2 linked regions of the Homo sapiens genome follow. The protein of the gene in region 1 interacts with the protein of each later gene in a pairwise test. Each region holds a gene or a part of one and is shown on either strand. Other genes may lie near its edges. The genes, in order: UTP25 and TRIM9.

Evidence for each region.
Region 2: the proteins of UTP25 (region 1) and TRIM9 interact in binary tests that used the Homo sapiens proteins (3 or more experiments, as listed by UniProt).

The regions. Positions count from the first base shown.
Region 1 is NC_000001.11:209,851,901-209,858,081, forward strand, and holds the end of UTP25 (U3 small nucleolar RNA-associated protein 25 homolog), read left to right. Parts: 3' UTR 1-5,665; downstream 5,666-6,181. UniProt on the Homo sapiens protein: Component of the ribosomal small subunit processome for the biogenesis of ribosomes, functions in pre-ribosomal RNA (pre-rRNA) processing. Essential for embryonic development in part through the regulation of p53 pathway.
Region 2 is NC_000014.9:51,085,079-51,092,165, reverse strand, and holds part of TRIM9 (E3 ubiquitin-protein ligase TRIM9), read left to right. Parts: intron 1-7,087. UniProt on the Homo sapiens protein: E3 ubiquitin-protein ligase which ubiquitinates itself in cooperation with an E2 enzyme UBE2D2/UBC4 and serves as a targeting signal for proteasomal degradation.

The sequences.
Region 1 (6,181 bases):
TGGCATGGGTTTTGTAAAACTTATTCTGCCCCAGCCAAACTTTTTTGAAACCTTAAATAGTCTACCTTAATTCAGCCTAGAAGAGTACATTGATTTACTGATCTTTTTTCATATTCATAATACTAAATGTTTTAGTTTTGTTCAAATATATGCTTAAAATCACGTTATTTAAAAAACACATCAGCTCTGTCTCAAGAAGTAATTTTGTTGAAACTCCATGTTAAAATATCCATCTTCAACAGTAGTGTCTTCATAATAACTAGTCATTTTTTCAGTCATAAACAGATGCAAATAAAAAGGAAATTACACTTTTAAAAACATTTTTATTTTGAAACATTCTCAAACAGAAAAATTCCAAGTACAGAACCTGAACCATTTGAGAGTGAGTTGCCAACCCAGTGGGCCTATCACCTTTAAATACTTTAGTATATATTTCCTGTAAACAATTAAGGGTATTGTTTGTGATTAGGAATGCCCCACCAATAAGGATAATGTGAATATTTCAGAATCCAAAAAAATTCGAAACACGTCTGGTCCCAAGCATTTCAGATAAGAGATATTCAACTCATCCTAGTATGGACTCGTAGTTTCTTCTTTTATTCAATGGGTTACGGTTTGTTACATCATTATTTCTTTAGATGCGTAACTGGTCTCAAATATGGCCGCTGGGAGCACCTTCAGGTTAGCCCCTGTGTACTTTTGACATGTCCCCCATCTACTTGGGCACTGCTGTATTTTTTGACAATGAGACATTCCAGGTTTCTCTACTCCAGCCCTGCTTGCTTTTAGTAGGAAATTATTATAAAAGGTTAGATTGGAGTGCTTACTATTGTGGTGCCACTCATCCCAGGCTCAGTGGTCAGAACTTGGGAATTGTGTACATGTATGCACACACATATGTACACACGTTGTCTAAATTTGCTTCACATTAATATCTAAATTTACTTTCATATCCATATATTGAAAACCATGAATTCACACCAGTACCTCCAATTCTAGTCCAACAACACAGGATTGCTTCTCATTTTCTTTCCATATTGATAACTCCTTTCTCAGACAGTGGCTCCCATTATCCTCAATGTAATAACCCATGATTGGTACAGATTTTTTTTATCCTTGGGCACGCTTAAAATTACTTAGCAAAAACAAAAAGTAAAATCAGTTTTGAAGTAATATTTCTGCTAAATATTTAGACATTTTTACTTCTTTTTCTTCAGCATGGTAAGTAAAACCATTTATTCCATATTTAGATGGTTTTCTAAATTTCAGAAAATTTAGTTAGATAAAAGCCGACCGAACCCATGCTACAAAGAACTTTTTGTATCTATAGGCATGCCCTGTGGTTACTGGCGTAATTGTGCTGCTGTTTATCATAGATCCTGTATATTATGAGAATAAGAAATGAGTTTATTTACCTCATTCAGAAATGTGAGGCGAAGGGACTGTAATTACCTGGATCTTTTTTTTTTTTTTTGAGATGGAGTCTCGCTCTGTTGCCCAGGCTGGAGTACACTGGCATGATCTTGGCTTACTGCAATCTGTGCCTCCCGAGTTCAAGCGATTCTCGTGCCTCCGCCTCCCAAGTAGCTGGGACTACAGGCGCATGCCACCATGCACAGCTAATTTTTTATATTTTTAGTAGAGATGGGGTTTTGCCATGTTGGCCAGGCTGGTCTCAAACTCTTGACCTCAAGTGATCTGCCCACCTCAGCCTCCCAAAGTGCTGGGGTTACAGGCCTGAGCCGCCACGCCTGGCCAATTACCTACATCTTTTTCTACTGCCATATTCTTTTGCCTGTGAATTGTAGTTCATCTCGTGGTTTCCATTATTACTATTCACACGACTCCCAAATCTCCAGCTTCTCTGGCTCTCCACTCACATGTGAGTCTGGATTTCAAATCCATGATGTAGCCCCAGAAATAACCATTTTATTAAGCACCCCTAGTGATTTTCATGCTGGCATAGAGCCAAACCCAGCCAACTGCTTCTTGCCTGCAGAGAACACTGAGGATTTCAAGTGTGAACAAAGTAGTGTTGCTTTGTTCCTGGCTCAGCACCTGAAAAGAAGGTAAGCCTCTGCAGTTAGCCCTGGCTCCTTAGTGCATTGCAGAGTGGAGTCTCTGCAATGGTTTTATTAAAAGGATGCCTTGAAGATCTGGTCTCTCTCAACACACAATAAGCGAGAAGAGAGGCTACTGAAATACGGATGCGTGAGCTGGAATTACACACTACCTTGATGTTAACAAGGCTCATTTGCAGCAAGCAAGTGCCTATATAGGGTCTGAAATATAGACAAAGGATGGTCCCAATCCTGGAAACAGTGGAATTAAAAGGTATGGAAAGGAACTTACCCAGAAAGTAACACTTTTAAATGTTTTTTCTTTTCCCATAGTTAAAACAACCAGCTTAGCACTTTTCTTTTTGAGAGAGAAAAAGCTTTGAATCGTGGATGCTTCTCACAGCTGGCTGCACCACGTGCAGTGTTCAAAAAACAAGAACAAGCTAATCATAGAGAACCAGCAGCAGCTAAACAGCCCTCTGCTTGCTTCCAAAGGGCTTATAATTGAGCACAGATGGTCCTAGTGGAGATGGGGAATGTGTCCCTGCTGACTCCTCATACCCCAGAGGACCAAGGGGGGCTCATGAAGGCTCTCAGCCCTGATTGTGCCCTCGTGAGGGCAAGGAGCTATGCTGCTGAAGGAGGAAAGGGAAAGGCAGGTGGGGCCAGACCCTATTGGCCATCTGACCAGCCTTCCCAAGCCCACGTGAGCAGATCTAGGGTCTCAAGATTACAGAAGGCCTGGGGTGAGGGAGCAAGAGTTGGAAGTTCTTTATAGTTGTCTGAAGAGCCTCATTGTCCAACTGCAGGGGCCTGAGGTGCCCAAAGCTTCGTGGAAAAGTAATGTCAGTGGAATGCTCAGAAGTGGCTCTTTTCAGGGCACGGCTTCTGAGGAGCGTGGGGCCACCACAGCTAGCCCTCCCTCCGTCTAGCCATCCTCTCCTTCCAGTCCCTTTCCCATCTTTTCTCTCAAAGGAGCATGGTAGTGATCTTCATTACCAAATTTCTACTCCACACTTATTTTAAAAAGCTTTTCTGAAAGCCTGGCTACATAGAATTCTAAACAGATTTCAGTCAACTTTTAATTAGAGTCAATGAATGGGGAGTAAATACACAGATAATCCAAAATTGATGTAAGCATTGGAAGGGGAAAGAGGGAACGCTTCTTTCCCTCTGGGCTTGGTCATTTCCTCCCAAGCAAACCCCGCGACGTTCAGCCGTCTTCCTCCTATGCCACGTGCTCTCACCAGAACTGCAGCAAAACTGCATTTTATGTCCTGTGTCTAAAGCTAAACACATGTTCCTGTCTACTTTTGCTTTGTTCCTGTTTCCCTTCTGTGAGGACCTTCCCCTCCTCAGATGTGGGGAGTTGCCGCCTCCACTTGCATTACATGTATTTCAGAGTAGGTCCTAGGCTCCCCTTACACCTCTGGTCACGTTGCCATTATTCCTATGGTAGATAAAGGGGATGAGAAAGAACAGAGCTCCAGGCCTTTTTCAAACAAACTGGTTTTCTCAGTATAGCCCTATGCTCAAAAGGAGTGAGGACAGGTATGTGACTGCCATAAGGAGCTGTTTGCTTTGCACAGAGAAATCTAATCTTTCTCCTGCTGGGCAGCTCAGTACAGATGTCCCCTCACTGCTGGAAGAAACACCTGCCCTTGCTTGTTCTCCTGATGGCCCCTCACAGTCAGGTGTGGGATGGCACATTTCTAGGTGCTCCTCGCCGAGCTGTCATGGGCTTCAGTCTTGGGCCTCTGCAGCTGGCTGTGACCAGGTGGAAACTGTAGCCTTGGCTGACCCAGAGAAGGAAAGGAGGCAGTCTGCCGCTTGGCTGATTTAGGAGTTGTGCTGAATTCCTGCCCATCTGTTCTCCCAGCTGAGCCAAGGCCAAAGCTGTCTACCTTTTGCCAACCTAAGGAATGACACAGAGCATGGAGCACCATCACTGAAACATCTGCCCCAGTGCCCTGCCACCTTCGTCCTCACTGACCTCTGCAGCCTCTCTCATCTGCCAGTTTTGATTCCGCAAGGAGAGGTGGCCCTGGGCTCACAGCTGGTGTTTGTCCACAGATGTTCATGGGTTTCTTTGTGTTCTCTCATTTTTTCAAAGCTGGGTGTTGGGACCAACATCACCACTGACATTCTGTGGCTCTAAACAAGTCCTCACGACCACTTCTCAGTTTTCTCATCTTTATGAAGTATGGAGTAATCCCCACTAGCCTTATAGAGGGACTGTGTGAGAAGGGAAGAGACTGCTATTGTTTGCCCTATATCCACCTACTTCCCTAGTTCCAGAACGCTGGACTTTAATGAGATAACAAAGTACCTAGTAAAAACACTGCATCATTTTCCATCCCCCACCCCTTGCAGTAAAATGTGGCCCATGAGACAGAAGCACTAACTACTGAGCAGGACTTCTAGGGGAGTTCTTTAAAACTCAGAGGAGCACCACTTTTACCTTCTGCTCTTCCCTTTTTCCTGCCTGGAACGCAGAAGTGATGGCTGAAGCTCCTGAGGCTATAAGCTCTGTACGTAGGAGAGTGGTGAAGAAAGGAGCTTGGTTCTGCAAGGATGTTGTAGAGCTGCCATACCAGTCCTGCATGGTATTCCTGTGCACTACTGTTACGTGAACACACAAACACCTAATTTGTTTAAGCCATTAGGCCAGGCCTCTATTAGCCATTCCTGACTGATACAGAAGACAAAAATGGCATCACAGACTCCTGAACTCCAAAGACACTGCCTATTCTTTCGTCTGTTCTTGGCAAGCACCAACATTGAGACTGTACTTCAGGGTTGATGCTGGCCATTTGGTGGCGTGAGGAGTGGGCACTCACATGTCTCTGCTAGCAGTTCTGACGTGTCCATTCCACACTGGATCCATAGAACGAGGGAACACAAGTGTCTTCTCATAAGATTTATAGAAACAGTGATCGTTGCAGAAAAATAATTAGCAAGAGAACAGACTTCAGCTCTCTGAAGGCTGATGACCACCTGTTTCTCATCTCTTCTAGTGTATGTCAAAGCTAAATTAGGTCAAATAGGAAATAAGTCAGAATCCCCAATTCGATAGAAACTTACAGGTCTTGTGATCTAATCTGCCACTTGATCCGTGAATTACCTATAGGTCATCCCTAAGAGGTGGCCTCCAGCTTCTGCTTGAATTCCTTCAAGGATGGGGTGCTCATTGTGGCTTTTCTAATCATCTCTGATTGTTAGAAACACTGTGAAACTTTTATCCATCAGTCCTGTTTCTGAAGCTGTACGGTACAAATTTTTTTTTTCCCCACTTAAGGCTCAACTATTGGAATACATCTACCATGTCTCCTATGAAACTTGCTTCTCCAGGCCAATCATCCTTACTTCCTTAAACTTTTTTTTTTCCTGAAAAGTTATTCTTTTAATCTTATTAAAAAAGCAACCCATGCCCATTCCACAAATACAAGTGAAATAGTGAAAAACAAAAATCAAACTACATCTATTTGGTGATCATTATTAATGTCTTATGTTTCCTCCCAGATTGTTTTCTGCATGAATAATAACCAACAATGTGTGTGTATGTATATATATGCTTTTGCATTAAAAGGTGGTTTTGAAGGTAACATTTTTTGGAGTACTGATTAAGCGCCAGCAACTCTTCCAAGCTCTTTGCATGTATTACATCAGTTAATCCCTCACACCCGTTTAAGGTAAGCATCCTTATTTTTCCCGATTTCCACACAGGCAGCACAATCCTGAAAACCTACACTGTTTTTACTAGATAATTACTTCTCTAAAAACAAAACAATAAAAGCACTCAATAAATAGTAGTTATTATTACCCTTTTTAATGAAGCAATCCTAATTGTTGAACTCTTAAAAGGACTAAGGGATGGCTCACACCTGTAAATCCAGTGTGTCCGGAATTGGTAGGTTCTTGGTCTCACTAACTTCAAGAATAAAGCCGCGGACCCTCGCCGTGAGTGTCACAGGTCTTAAAGGCTGCGTGTCTAGAGTCTGTTCCTTCTGAAGTTCGGATGCGTTTGGACTTTCTTCCTTCTGGTGGGTTCCTGGTCTCACTGGCTTCAAGAGTGAAGCTGCAGACCTTCGCGGTGTTACAGCTCACAAAAGCAGCATGCA
Region 2 (7,087 bases), on another chromosome or scaffold:
TTCACAGCTAGTTTTTTATTCATATTTTGATTTCACTTTTAAACTGCTAATTATAGTCCATGTTGAATTGCCCTACAAAGTATCCTTGGAACTAAAAAATTAATCACTCTGTCAGGAAAAAGAATTTAGAGCCACAAGGTAATTAGGATGGGTAAACCACAACATTATTATTTTTTTTATGACAAGCCTATCCTTGATCTATTAAGACCAAAAGAAACCTTTAAATCTCTGTCAAGCCCCATGTCAATTTGAAATGTTAAATCATTTGTTTTATTGGCAATAGAAATTATGAGTAGACAGACACTGGTGCTGCCTGGGTTGAGATTTAGATATCTACCTGCCACAAAAGAATGTTAAAACCCTTGAAACATGACATAAGTAGGCTAGAAGACCATTTATTCTCTGATCTTTTGCACATTTTTTCCAAAACAGTAAGGACACATAATTTTTGTTCAGTCAATATGAGGATTACTAAACTGCCAAGAAAAAAAATAAGACAGAAGGATGACAGATTTTAACATTCACTTGTCATCTGTTAGATGAACAACAAACATTACTCCCCCACCTTATTTACTTAATAAGGAAGTTAATGTGTTAGCAGCCAGTTTTCTCATATAGTTTATGTTTTAGTTAATGGTACTTCTATCTCCACAAAAGCCCATGGGCCAGAATTTCTATGCCCTGCAAAAATAGGACAGCAAAGAACTATACTAACTAGGTTTCCAAAATTGGGCAGTTAGTTATCAACACAGGTTATTACTAGACCTGAAAAGTTGTCATTCATATTCTATCATATTAGTCATTTCTACTGATAAAGCAAGTCCTGCAGATAAGTATTTCCCACAGGCATAAATCATCATCTTACACACTCAAGATATAATAAAATGGCTGCAGTTTATTTTTAAAGTGGTATTAAAAACATCTGGTTGAAATTCACTAGTTTTCAACTGGCCAGATTAAAATGTTTTTCAGATATTTTTGGTCTTCAAAACTCCATGAAAAATAATAACACATGAATAATAATAATAATAATAATGGTCTTATAAGTCAAATATTTGGTAGCAGTTTTTATTTAGTGCCAGTACTTAACTATATTCCTTTATTCAACGTACTTGTTAAAAGAATTATAACACCAAAAAAGTGATTTTGTAGATACTTTAAAATGGGCAATAGAAACCACTACTATTACTTTGTGATTTTAAGCAGTTCACATTCCTAAATCCTGATATTATCCTTGAATTCCTGGGGTTTCAATAGTCACTGAATCAGGGCTGGGTGCACTGGATTATGCCTGTAATCCCAGCACTTTGGGAGGCCGAGGCGGTCAGATCTCTTGCGGCCAGGATTTAAGACCAGCCTGACCAGCATGTTGAGACTCCATTTCTACTGAAAAATCAAAAATTAGCTGGGCATGGTGGTGCATGCCTTGTAGTTCCAGCTACTTGGGTGGCTGAGGCAGGAGAATTGCTTGAACCTGGGAGGCAGAGGTTGCAGTGAGCCAGGATCTCACCACTGCACTGTAGCCTGGGTGACGATGCAAGACTGTCTCAAAATAAAAAAATGAAGTCACTGAATCAGTAACATATTTGTAACAATTATTCTGTGTTCATGCTACTGAGCAAAGATTTTCTTTTCCTTTCTATTCTAAACACTATTCATTCTTAATCTTGTCTCAAATGTTATTTTTCTCTTACCTTTGTTTTTATAAATGAAAATTTGCAATTTAAACAATATTTTAAAATAAACTGTCAGTTAATATGCCTTCAATTCTAAAATATCCTGGAGAAAAATATCTGCTTAGCTTTATGGTGGCATCTCATTAAATATTTATGTAGCAAAATGTGTTATATAATGCCACTAAAATGATATTCAGTTAACTATATGTCAGCAGTAAACACAATATAGTCTATATATTCCTGTGGTAAATGTAACAGGCAGCATATGTTCATGTTTTTACATTTCTTTTGATTTACTTCTAGTACAATTAGAACATTCTGTGTGCCATGTAAACATTTTTACAGATATTAAGGAAAATGTTACAGAGAAGACAGTTATTCCTCTTTGTACCCAGGCATAATGGAAAGAACTAGATAACAGGAGATCCAGGTTATAGAACCAATGCTGCCACTTACTTGCAGGAAACTTTTTGCAAGTATCATCACCTGTCTGTACTTCCCACCTACAAAGATATAAGGGAGTTAAAATTACAATTGTGAAAGGATTTTGATAAGGTAAATTAAATGTTTATAATTTACTAATTTCAGTTCAACACAACCATAAACATTCATGTCAAACAGAGTCAATGTCTCACCAGTCAACAATTACTGCGTAAAAATCTCATCCCCCAACTTGGGGTACTTTTCTGGATCCTTTTCAGAGCATAGGGTACAGTCCAAAGCTGCTCTGAAAGGTGGCCTAAAAGAGTGAGACTCTTCCTCATGGGTCCAGAGAGAATATTCAGTTGAATTAAGCTCAAGAAATAAGAATACTATACAAAGATTTATATATTAAACAAAAGTATTCTGTTTTTCTCTAAGTAAGCTGAAATAGCTGATAAGGCTCCGTTTTTTTCAGATTCTCCAATAAAGATATTGTTACCAGTTTGAAGTAGCAGAAATTGTTTCTCCTGTATATGCCATGAAAAGATGCTATTAATTGGAGTTTCAGGTCAAATCACAGTTTGCATAAAGTAAGAGACAATTATCACAGCCATCTGTTCTTGTGTAATGAAAATAATGTACAGGGAACATTTGTCCTTACCATCAGTATGATAAATTGCACTTTCCTCACCTAAACAAGTTGGTGGACTTTTCAAAGTGTATATACACATACAACTTAACTTTGGCCTACAGAAGGATAGAAGAACCTATAACAAGATAAATGTTTAAGAATCAAATAGTTATAAATAAATATCATTTGTTTATCAGTTTTATCAGGGATTATTCATTGAAAGGATCAGAAACCCACTTAGGTGATCTCAGAGGATTTCATGGGAAGTGAAATAAAATCAACTCACAAGGAGAATGGAACTATAAAGCTAGAAACTAAGTTCACTCTCAGCATCAGTCAGGTTGGACTATGCTCCAGTAACAAATCTTCGAATCTCAGTGAATTATAATGGCATCTAATTTCTTACTTATTCATGTCAGTGTCCACTGAGAGTCTTTTTTTTTTTTTCTTTGCTTTAGCTTGTTTGTGTTGGTTTCCTGCCACTTGCAACCAAGAAGTCCTGACTTACAAAAGCATATGAATTAACACATGTAAATACTTTAAGATTCTAATTTTTATTCATCCTAGATATTGTCTTTAGAATATTGTGTTTAGAAGGCTGCATTCTGATGCCATAAATACAAATAGAGGGGCGGTTTTTGATTCAATGAAGCAGAAATCATATCATATTCAATGTTATCTACCCATTCACCACTAGGTAGCTTTTATTAGCCTTTTGGTTATTTTCTTCAGTTATTTTTATTGTGAGGTTTTTCACAAAGAGGCCGAAGAGATTTTTTTTTTTTTTTACCAACTCGAAATTACTCCATGTATGTAGTGATGACACTTTTAAGAACATTAGGCCAGACAGGGAGGTCCTGAAATCGAACTTCTGCCAATAATTGATTTGTTTGTTTTCAAAGGCAAGAAAACCTCTGAAGATATGTATGAGCACTCCACAATTCTTTTTGTTTTATCTATACTCTAGGTCAGCATTTCTCAAACTCTGCTCCCACGAGTTTTCCATAGTTAAATAAGTTTGAGACTCTCCATTCTGAACAGGCTGCAGGTAGTTCACATTGTATATTGTATCAATATGCCTATGTATACACATCCTGCAACAAACAAAGCCACTTGATTCAATGTAGCATTTTCCAAATTTGTCTAACTTTGGAAACTCTGTTAGAGTGCCACACAAGTTTGGAGAACACTAGTTCAGGTAGTTATTAGTGAATAAGTTAGTAAGTAATTGTTATTCATTTCTTGTCTATGTAGATTAGAATACCTAAAACTATGCCTGCAGCAAACCTATCCTTAAATCTTAAATCTTGCATTAATTCTTAAAGCAAATGTTAAAAGTTAAATTTATTTTATTTTTTAAACATTAAAAGTCAAAGAGGTAAAAATAATTAACATAAGTTTTGTAGTATTTATATGTATGGACTGGAATACATGTTGTCCCCCTTTCTATTGTAAATAACTCAAAAAATGATTTTAGGCATGAGGAATATTAATGTAATATAATTTTAAAAACCACCACTTCATTCTACTTTAGACTACTTTTAGGTTTTGTATACATGATACCAAATGACTGGTCTAATTGAGTTTTTCATTAATCTGTGGTATACAAAAATAGATTGTTTTAAAGATACTTTTGATGAGCAGAAAAAGACAATATGAAAAGCTTAAAACTTTAATATTGCTCTGGGGACAACATAGCATAACAACTTATGAAGTAAATGCTTGTTTAATGCATTCCAGGTTTTGCTAATATTTTTATATTGACATTTTGGGTCAATTTTTAACCTTAGAACAAGAGTTATCTATAAAATGGCCACCACAGTGTACCTACACTATCAGAGACCATCTAGGTTTTGTTAAGCAGCATATCTAATTCAGCCCAAAGGACATCTCAAAGCCAAGATCATTCCCCTGGGGTGTTCTCACAACCCTAAACTGGGCCCCTATCCTAAACTGAGACCTAACTCCAAGTGAGATTACCCAAGAAACCTAAGCAAAATATATCTAACAGCAGGTTTTCTTTTTTCTAACTGCATCTGTGTCAGGGAAATCATCATGACATCATTTCACTTTTGTTTGGCCCTGGTTTTGCCTTCTTTTTAAACTATCCAGGCCTAAAGTGCAGCATGTTGGCCATGGGTCTAGTCACAATCCCATCTGCCTGCTTAGCTATCTTCTCCTTGACACCCTCTGACTTTCTCCATAGAGCCCCTCCCTTCCTGTCCACTACGCTTGCCCTCCCCCAGTTTCTTAGACCAAACCTTCAGATCACCAGACCAACTAACCTGGCCACACCCAGTTGAGATGAGTCAGCCTCCACAGCTGTGGACCAGACCAGCCTGCCAACCGGGAACCTGATGCTGCTACCCCACCTACCAGAGTTACACCTGCACCAGCAGTGCCCGCCACCTCCCCCCACCCCAGCTGTGTTTAATTGCAGACACTTTTTTATTAAATAACTGTAGAGAGGGAGTTTTCTTCATTTTGGCTGATTCATTTTAAGCTGCAAAAGCAAGAAAACTTTTTTTGAGTGTCTAGTCATGAATAAATAAACATCATTTACTTTTCCCCCCTCCTCAACACGCCTGTCTCAAGAAACTCATCCACTCCGTGGTTTCAATTCCTGCTTGTACCTGATTGTCTGAAACAGATCTGGTCATTTCAGTCCCCTTCCTCTTCACAGTTTGGTCCCAGACTCTCTTCCCAGCCCTGTCACCTGTTCAGCTCACCCTCCTCCATAGCGTCCATATCTGTATTCTAACCCTGAGCATCCTCCCACTGTATTATAATTGCTTCTGTGAGAAATCTTCCACTGAACCCTAATAACTCAATTCCATAGACTGTTTCTTATCTATCTTCTTTTACTCCGTTTCTGTACTTAGTAGAAGTTAGATAAAGGTTGGTTCAATGAAGAAAATAATCAGTAGAGGAAGACTAATAACTAGCAATATAACCCGGTATTTTAAATTTCTCAAATTAGCCTGACAGTAATCATTAAATTTGAAAGCCTGTATTTTATACTTTTTGCTAAAATGTACTGGGCACTTACTACATGCAGGCACTGCTCTAAAGATTTTTACAGCATTTTCTCATTTAATCTTCATAATCCACACATCTTCCTGTGAGAAAACTGGAACACAGGAAGATTATGAAGTCACACCCGTTGTAATTGGCAGGGTCAGAGTTTGAATCCTGGCTGTCTGACTCTACAACTCACATGTTTAACTGCTGTTCTGTTCTACTTTCTGATAAGCCCAGGAAGCATACCTATAAAGCACAGTTTTATGAACTTACAAACTTCAATGACATAACAAATAGCTGGACTCCTTTAGTTCTCGTATATGAAAATTACTGAGAAATTGAGTCATTTTTCTCCTAAGATTCCTTGTGACAAAATAAATTTAGAAAAGAAATTGTGGTGCATGAGGAAAGAGGTGACAAGTATGTTGAATATTCCACAGACCAGATCATCGGAGGTATAGGCCTAATTACCTTACCTATATAATTACCTTACCTGACAGAGATGGGGTTCATCCTGCTTCTCTGTCAGAACTAAGTAACAAATAGACAGTAAGATTTTACCAGCTCAACCATGGAGCATTGTCTCTCTTCTAACAAAATAATGCATCCCAAAATTTACAGACATAAAAACCATAAACTAATAAGTAGATTTTAATAATTACAGACCAAAAAAACCATAAACTAATAAGTAGATTTTAAAAATAAAAATCCATAGGCATTTTAAGTATCTTTATTTCTACACATCTAAACATTTATAAGTCCATTTTTGAAAACACAAAACATGTTTAAATCTGTAAGCAAGTATCTGTTTACTTTCAGTTTTTTCTTGTACCTTTTGCCTATGTGGTTAAAAGAAAATATGCGTATTCCAGTTCAGAATAGAAAGCTGATCCACCTTTCACCATATAAAAAGGAATATGTGAACCGAGGAGGATATCGTTTAAGAATGGATTTAAACACTGCCAAATAAAACTGTTTTTCATAGCCTTGCATAGAAGCAGAACTGCGTGTTTTATACTAACAGTTCTGATCAAAGAAGAAACTGTCCCTTTTAAAGAGCTGGCTTTGGAAATAGAATGCTAAACATTATTCTTTGGTGCGGGAATAGCCACCTTCTGTCAGGAGTACATGTAGATGGTTAATTCTCATCCACCGCTGATTTATTCATGTGACACTGACTTTCTAGCTGGGTAGCATCAGTCAGTTTTATTGAGGTTTTTGCTCATCTCCTCTTACTCTTACTTTGCTTGCAGCCTGCACTTTAAGAAGTAACTGTGTGGCACCAAATATTCATCACTTACTCCCATGCTCCAGGAGAGCCTGAGAGAATAACACT